2 linked regions of the Homo sapiens genome follow. Changing the gene in region 1 together with any one later gene gives a genetic interaction. Each region holds a gene or a part of one and is shown on either strand. Other genes may lie near its edges.

Region 1 (3,205 bases):
TTTGTCCTATCTAATCTATAACCCCTCTCCATGATCAAGCCCATCCTGTGTGCCCTTCATAAATCTCTTTATAATATCAATGCTGCTTGGTTTCAGCTTTCTAGCATGATCAATACTTCACTTGTCACTATCAGAAAACATGCGGCCGGGCGCGGTGGCTCACGCCTGTAATCCCAGCACTTTGGGAGGCCGAGGTGGGTGGATCACGAGGTCAGGAGATGGAGACCATCCTGGCTAACATGGTGAAACCCCGTCTCTACTAAAAATACAAAAAAAAAAATTAGCTAGGCGTGGTGGCGGGCACCTGTAGTCCCAGCTACTCGGGAGGCTGAGGTAGGAGAATGGCGTGAACCCGGGAGGCAGAGCTTGCAGTGAGCCAAGATCGCACCACTGCACTCCAGCCTGGGCGACTCCGTCTCAAAAAAAAAAAAAACAAAACATGCTAGATAACCCTGAGTTTAATTATTATTCAGTATTAATAATAATTGACACAGTTAAGATCCATTAGTAGAAAAAATTTATTAAATAAAAAACTTCAAGTAATAATTTAAAAAAACACATGAGGTAGAAATAAAAATTTTAACATATTTAACACTCATTAAAAAAAACCCTCAAGAGAAATGGAAGATTTCCAAGCCCCAGAAGAATCTGTTACCCCAAGAATCTTTTAACCTTTGTTAAAATCTGTTACTTTTTATATATATAATATAATCACTTTGAGACAATTTTGTTTTACAAAACATCTTTACACAAAAAAGGGAAAACTGAGTGATACCCCCAAACATAGGGGCATATGAACATATGTGAAAATAGGAATCAACTTTTTAAATTTATTATCAATTCAGAAAACAAAATTTGTTGCAAAAGATGATGTAAGAATTATTTTCTTTTATATCAAAATCTACTCTAGAATACTGAAATACTGAATACTGAAAACAAAAAAGGAGGATAGTAAGGGAGGATAGAAAATTAACAGGAAGTAATCAATTCATGTCATAAAAGACTAGGTTTAGAGTGAAAACACATCTGATAGCAGAAAAAATCCTAGCAAAATGGGCTTTGGATTAGGGACCTCAAAATACAGAAAAGAATCACACTTATGTTCTCATCATCACAAGACTGTGCTTAAATGATGAAAACAAATCAAATCCCTTTATTCAGTCTTTCAAATAAAGTTCTTACAATGATATCTACAAAATCAAATTAGTCCTGAAATGTCTGACTTAAAAGTTTAAAGCTCAAAGTCAAAAGTTAATCCATCTTCAAAGCTGGTAAAAATTTATCAAACTCTTTCTCTAGGTTAGGCAAAAATGCATGCATAGAACCCATAAATTCAGACTTTTCACAGTTTTCGGTACACCTGTGCTTTAAAACATAAATACTGCATTAAATTTTGTATGGTGATAGAATTTTCTGTATGGGCACTAGCTAGAGGAGATACTGCCCTAGTATGAAAAGGCAAGGGAAATAGTGTTTTATTCTCTTTGAAAGTCACCCAATATGTGGCAAAGACTTTCATGTTCTCTTGATGGAAGATCAATGATGTAAAATAAATTAAGGAAGAAATATTTAGCACAATATGGAATGGCATAAATTTATGACATTATTATTTAACATTTTGTAATTTGACTTACAGGACCACAAAAAAAAAATAAGGATCTTTATGGCATTCAATGAATAATTATGCCTTTAAGCAACAGGAGTTATTTATCTTTTTTTTTTTTTTTTCTGAGATGGAGTTTCACTCTTGTTACCCAGGCTGGAGTGCAATGGTGCGATCTCAGCTCACCGCAACCTCTGCCTCCTGGGTTCAAGAGATTCTCCTGCCTCAGCCTCCCGAGTAGCTGGGATTACAGGCATGTGCCACCATGCCCGGCTAATTTTGTATTTTTAGTAGAGACAGGGTTTCTCCATGCTGGTCAGGCTGGTCTCGAACTCCCAACCTCAGGTAGTCCGCCTGTCTCAGCCTCCCAAAGTGCTGGGATTACAAGCGTGAGCCACCACGCCCAGCCTCAGAGTTATTTATCTTAGCCTACTTCATACCTTCATAAGAAGTATGAAGTTCTTATGAAGCCTAAGAACTTCATACACTGTTTTTTTTGTTTTGTTTTGTTTTGTTTTTTGAGACGGAGTCTCGCTCTGCCACCAGGCTAGATCTCGGCTCACTACAACCTCCGCCTCCCGGGTGCAAGCGATTCTCCTGCCTCAGCATCATGAGTAGCTGGAACTACAGGCACACGTCACCATGCCCAGCTAATTTTTGTATTTTTAGTAGAGACGGGGTTTCACCATGTTAGCCAGGATGGTCTCAATCTCAACCTCGCAATCCACCTGCTTCAGCCTCCCAAAGTGCTAGGATTACAGGTGTGAGCCACCAGGCCCAGCCCATACACATTTTTAAAAAACGATTTATCTTAAGGCCAGGTGCAGTGGCTCACCTCCTCTCTATTAAAAATTTTAAAAAATTAGCCAAGCGTGGTGGTACGTACCTGTGGTCCCAGATACTCAGAAAGGTAAGGTGGGACGACTATTTGAGTCCAGGTCAAGGCTGTAGTGAGCAGTGATCCTGCCACTACACTCCAGCCTGAGTGAAGTTAGGCACCACTTCTTGGGGGAAAAAAAGGCTGAATGTGGTGGCTGACACCTGTAGTCCCAGCACTTTGGGAGGAGGCGAGTGAATCACTTGAGCCCAGGTGTTCAAAACCAGCCTGGGCAACATGGTGAAACCCTGTCTTTACAAAAAAATACAAAAATTAGCTGGGCATGGTGGAATGCACCTGTGGGCCCAGCTACTGGGGAGGCTGAGGTAGGAAGATCACTTTAGCCTGGGAGATTGAGGGTGCAGTGAGCTCTGATCATATCACTGCACTGCAGCCTGGGTGACAAAGCAAGGCCCTGTATATAAAATAAATAATACTCCATTTTAATCTAATCATTTGTTCTGGATTAAAAAAGGGTTATAGGCTGGGGGCCGTGGCTCACATCTGTAATCACAGCACTTTGGGAGGCCTACACAGGAGGATCGCTTGAGCCCAGGAGTTCAAGACCAGCTTAAGCAACATAGTGAGAGCTTTAATTTAAACAAGCAAATAAATACTCACAACAGTGCAATCAAATGTGACCATATACAGAAGAAAAAGGATATTAATTTTTCTGAGTTTAAATGATTAAGCAGCTTCTCCAAAGGAGGATAGCAATTTAGTGA
Region 2 (4,240 bases), on another chromosome or scaffold:
GACTCAAAATGGGAAATCTTGGAAGTCTTCACCGAGGAGGTAACCTTAATACCTGGGCATTAAGAGTGTGAGAGCCATTGTTTCAATCTGTCACTTTACTTGGTTCTGGTCTCTTGAGAGCAGAGGCAGACGTTTTTACCCTTAACTGCCTTTTCCTTTTCTAACTTCTGCTTCTCTCTAACTCAGATCATAGTACTCGTGAAAAATTTGTCCTGGGGAAGGAAGCAAGACCCCTTAACATTTTTCTCATTTCTCCTATTTCCCCATAGGCAAAGATGCCTTTTGATGCCAACAAACTGTATTGCAGTGAAGTGCTGGCCATATTGCTCCAGGACAATGATGGTGAGGCGCCCTCTCAGTATTGATATTCTGTTAGGATAGGAGCCAGGCTTGTTTCAGATCATGACAGCAAGCTCTCTTGCCTTTGGCATCCCCTTGCTCTCCCTCTCACTCCCTGTGCTGCTTTTGTACTCTGTCAAGCTGTATTGATTTTGTTTGCTGATGTATCAGTGTTAGACGGCTGTAAAATCTGACAGTTAGGTTCATTTTTTTTCTTCCTCTATTTTTTTCCCCTTTAGAAAACAGGGAATTGCTTGGGGAGCTGGATGGAATCGATGTGCTTCTTCAGCAGTTATCCGTGAGTAATTCTTATGCTTCCTGTCTGCTGTAAGATACATGGTCTGCTTTGAATGGGAGGTGGAGCTGGAAACTGTGGGAAGGAATAAGCCATGTGCTGCAAGCCATATGGAGCATGTTGGCAGGTTTGAGGGTTATACGGAGGGACATGGTTTGCCTCCTTTTCTTAGTCATTTGCTCTTTATGACCAGACATCACTGTGTATCAGTTCTGAACTTTCTTCATCTTCTGATATGATATTGTCAACTCAAAAAAGATGTGCCTCATGCTTAAGTGTGTATGTTCTGGGCCAAGCATACCAAATTATTTTCATTTGACCCACTGCCAAGATTATTCACCAACCTTCCTTTCAATCTGCTGTGAAAATGGAGTATGTTCATTTAGGATCTGAATAAGCTCAAGGAGTACAAGTTCCACTGCAGTGGGGTGGGGGTCAAGGGGAGGATAGGGGAGGATGTGGTGCTGAAGGCTGGAGTGAGAACTTGGAAACTGCCATTTTCTCACTGTAAGAAATGTAAATCCAGTTGAAATGTTATTCTGCTGGCATTCTGAAAATACTGTTAAGATTTCCTCTTACAAGTTTTAGCTGTGTTATTCTAAAAACAGGACTGAAAATAGATCATTTGGATAAAATCTTAAGAGTGTTGGGAGAGTCTGAGATGTCAGTTTGCATACAGCTTCCATCTTGGTGCCAGCAGCCTGAGTGTCTTGGCCTCCACCCCAAAAATAGAGCTTTGAAATGTGAATCTGTTTCCAGTTCTGGGAAGGTGCTTAGTCCTTTTCCTGTGAGATTATTGATCTTCTTGTAGTAGACTGTATGGGTATGCATATACAGTTTAAAGGCTTCTCTTAACATGCCTTACATCTCTGGCAAAAAGAAAACTAATGCTGTAAGCCCTTCCCATGAATTAAAGCCCCAGCTCCCCTGTGAGGGAATTCAGTAGCCTTGGTTGTCAGGAAATGCTTCCTTATATTGAGCCACGATTCAGCCCTCTGGATTGTGGTTGCTTTTAGAAGGGAAAGAAATGAGATATGGTTGGGTTGGGCAAGTGGAGGGCTTTGAGGGGAGTTGGCAAAGTTGTTTCTCATCCTGGATAATGATTTCAGGGGTGTTCACTTCATTTAGTTTTATATGTCCTTTATGGAGTTTTTCTGTATCTGTGTTATATTTCACGATAAAAAGATTTTGTTTTTTATTGGGTTTTGGTTTTTAAAAAAATCTGCTTGCCTGGAACTGTCAATTACTGATGGACCCAGTGGTCAGTAGAGTGTTTTGGCTTTTTTTTTTGCATGTATTTAATATATGTGAATCATTTAGTTTCTCTAAAATGGAAACTGATGAGAATTTTGTTTGGTGAGCTTCTGTTTCCTCAGTCGTAGAGTTATGACCCACAGGTTTTAGGAATTGTTGGATGGAGGCTCATGAAAAGACATTCTCTTATAGCTCTGTGCTTTGTGCTGTTTTTGCTTGACAGGTGTTTAAAAGACACAATCCCAGCACGGCTGAGGAGCAGGAGATGATGGAGAATCTGTTTGATTCCCTCTGCTCCTGTCTAATGCTTAGTTCCAATCGTGAGCGCTTCCTGAAGGGCGAGGGTCTTCAGCTGATGAATCTCATGCTCAGGTATGTTTCGAATGCCCTAGTTCTCCCACCTTTTTTGCCTGACTTTTCACTGTTAGCCTGAATTCAAGAGCATGTAGCTATGATCATTTATTCTGTTGGGTTTCCTAGACTTTACCCTGAAGAGTAAAGTCTTCAGGCATGGGGGGATGTGTTTGTATAGGTATGTGGTCTTTCCTAAAGTTAGAGTAGATGAATAAAAAGTATATTGTGTTCTGTTTGTGCCCTACTGTGGTGGTTGCTAATACGTCCACTCCATTGAAGGACATTGGTGTTTTTCCTCTCCTTCCCATAGTGTGTTAGTTTTGGGGAAATCTAGCCATTACTTCTAAACTTGGACTAATTTTCTGTATATATCACATAGACCTATCTATGCCATATGTTTGTATTTTTATTGAAAGCAGCGTATCATTCATATTTTTCACTCCTCATTCAGTAATGAGTTGTACATGTGCTGTATGCCTAGCTTAGGAAATATGAAAACGTGCAAGACAGTTCTAGAAACTTTTATTTATAGTACTTTCCTTGTGTGTCTTATTATTTATACGCTAATTCCTGAAAGTGGATCTTATATTAGTTTCACAGTTATTTTATAGAATCCTAAAGTTAGAAGCAAAAAGGGGAGAGGAAGCTTATGTTGATAACTCTTGAGACCCTGTCTAGGAAGGGGAGTAGAGAAGTGTGTGGGGGAAGGCTGAGGGGATAACCAGACTGTGGTATAGGGTCAAGGGACTTAAAAAAAAAAATCGAGCATGTTTATGTGGTTGGAAGATTCTAGTCATTATGAATTGTGCCCTACAGAGGAGCAAGTTGAGATTTAAAAAAAAAAAAAACAAGAAAAAAAGAAATGGAGCCAGAGTCTGCTGTCTTAAAACTTCAAGTATACTGAAAGTTCTGTTGAACTAAGATATTTCTTTGGAAAGGTTTTTCATAAATGTGATATATATTTGTTAAATAGAATTTAGAATACTAACATATAAAACTGCTATTAAAACATTGACAAGGTACTATGTTAAGTACTGGGCATACACAGAAATACCTAAGACAGAATTTCTGTCTCCACAAAGTTAGGAAAACAGTTCTGTGAGCTAAACACAGCCTGTCTTTGGGTGTATATTTTCTTCTAGTCTTTTTTTCTATAATTTTTAACAACTTTTTAAGCCTGCCACACATAGGATTTTCTGTATTGCTACATTTCAGACATAAGATGCTGTTTCCCATGCTGTGAATAATCTTCATGAGAGTTTTCAGTAACTGCATCATGGCCTCTAAGGGACTGTAGCTTACTTAGTATTCTTCTGTTGTTGGCATTGAGGATATTTCCAATGTTTTGCCGTTATAACAAATTCTACAGTGACCATTTTTGTGTTTAAAATGATGTTAGGATTATCCAGGTACAGTAAGTCCTCACTTAACATCATCAGTAACATTCTTGGAAACCATAACTTTAAGCGAAATGATGTATAATGAAACCAGTTTTTCTGATCATTGTTATAACGGTGTTATTTGAGGATCTGACCTCCTATATCCCGTTTTACTTAAAGTTGCCATTTCCAAGTCTATCTATGATGTTAAGTGATGACTTACTGTGTATATTTCTAAAATATATTATCTTTAAAAGGCTTCTGGGGGGCTGGAGGCACAGTAGACCTCTTCATTTGTCCAGTGTGTACCAGACCTTGCATTGACCAAAAGTCTTCCTTTGAGGAATTGCTTTTAAAAACAATTTTTAAAAAAATGCAGAGAGGAGCATGAGAAATTACTCAGAGGCCTTTTGTGTTTAGCTGATTTTTGCTAGCTTTACTCTCTTGAGTCTTTTGTTTATCTCCCTTACCCTTCTAATTGCTTGTCCTTTTGTTGAAATGACCCACCTTCTCTCAAGTAAATAGCATAAATAGAAGATACATTTGGCTTCTTGGATCTTCTAACCTTAACACAATGTTCTGAAGGGACTTTTCCTTAAGCTTCTTAAAGGTCTGAATT

Evidence for each region. A genetic interaction does not mean that the proteins touch.
Region 2: changes in DNA2 (region 1) and CTNNBL1 together harm fitness less than expected from each alone (positive genetic interaction), as found in Homo sapiens cells (one large-scale study listed by BioGRID).

The regions. Positions count from the first base shown.
Region 1 is NC_000010.11:68,413,564-68,416,768, forward strand, and holds the end of DNA2 (DNA replication ATP-dependent helicase/nuclease DNA2), read right to left. Parts: coding exon 3,146-3,205; intron 1,545-3,145; coding exon 1,476-1,544; 3' UTR 501-1,475; downstream 1-500. UniProt on the Homo sapiens protein: Key enzyme involved in DNA replication and DNA repair in nucleus and mitochondrion.
Region 2 is NC_000020.11:37,777,076-37,781,315, forward strand, and holds part of CTNNBL1 (beta-catenin-like protein 1), read left to right. Parts: intron 1-269; coding exon 270-342; intron 343-578; coding exon 579-637; intron 638-2,111; coding exon 2,112-2,260; intron 2,261-4,240. UniProt on the Homo sapiens protein: Component of the PRP19-CDC5L complex that forms an integral part of the spliceosome and is required for activating pre-mRNA splicing.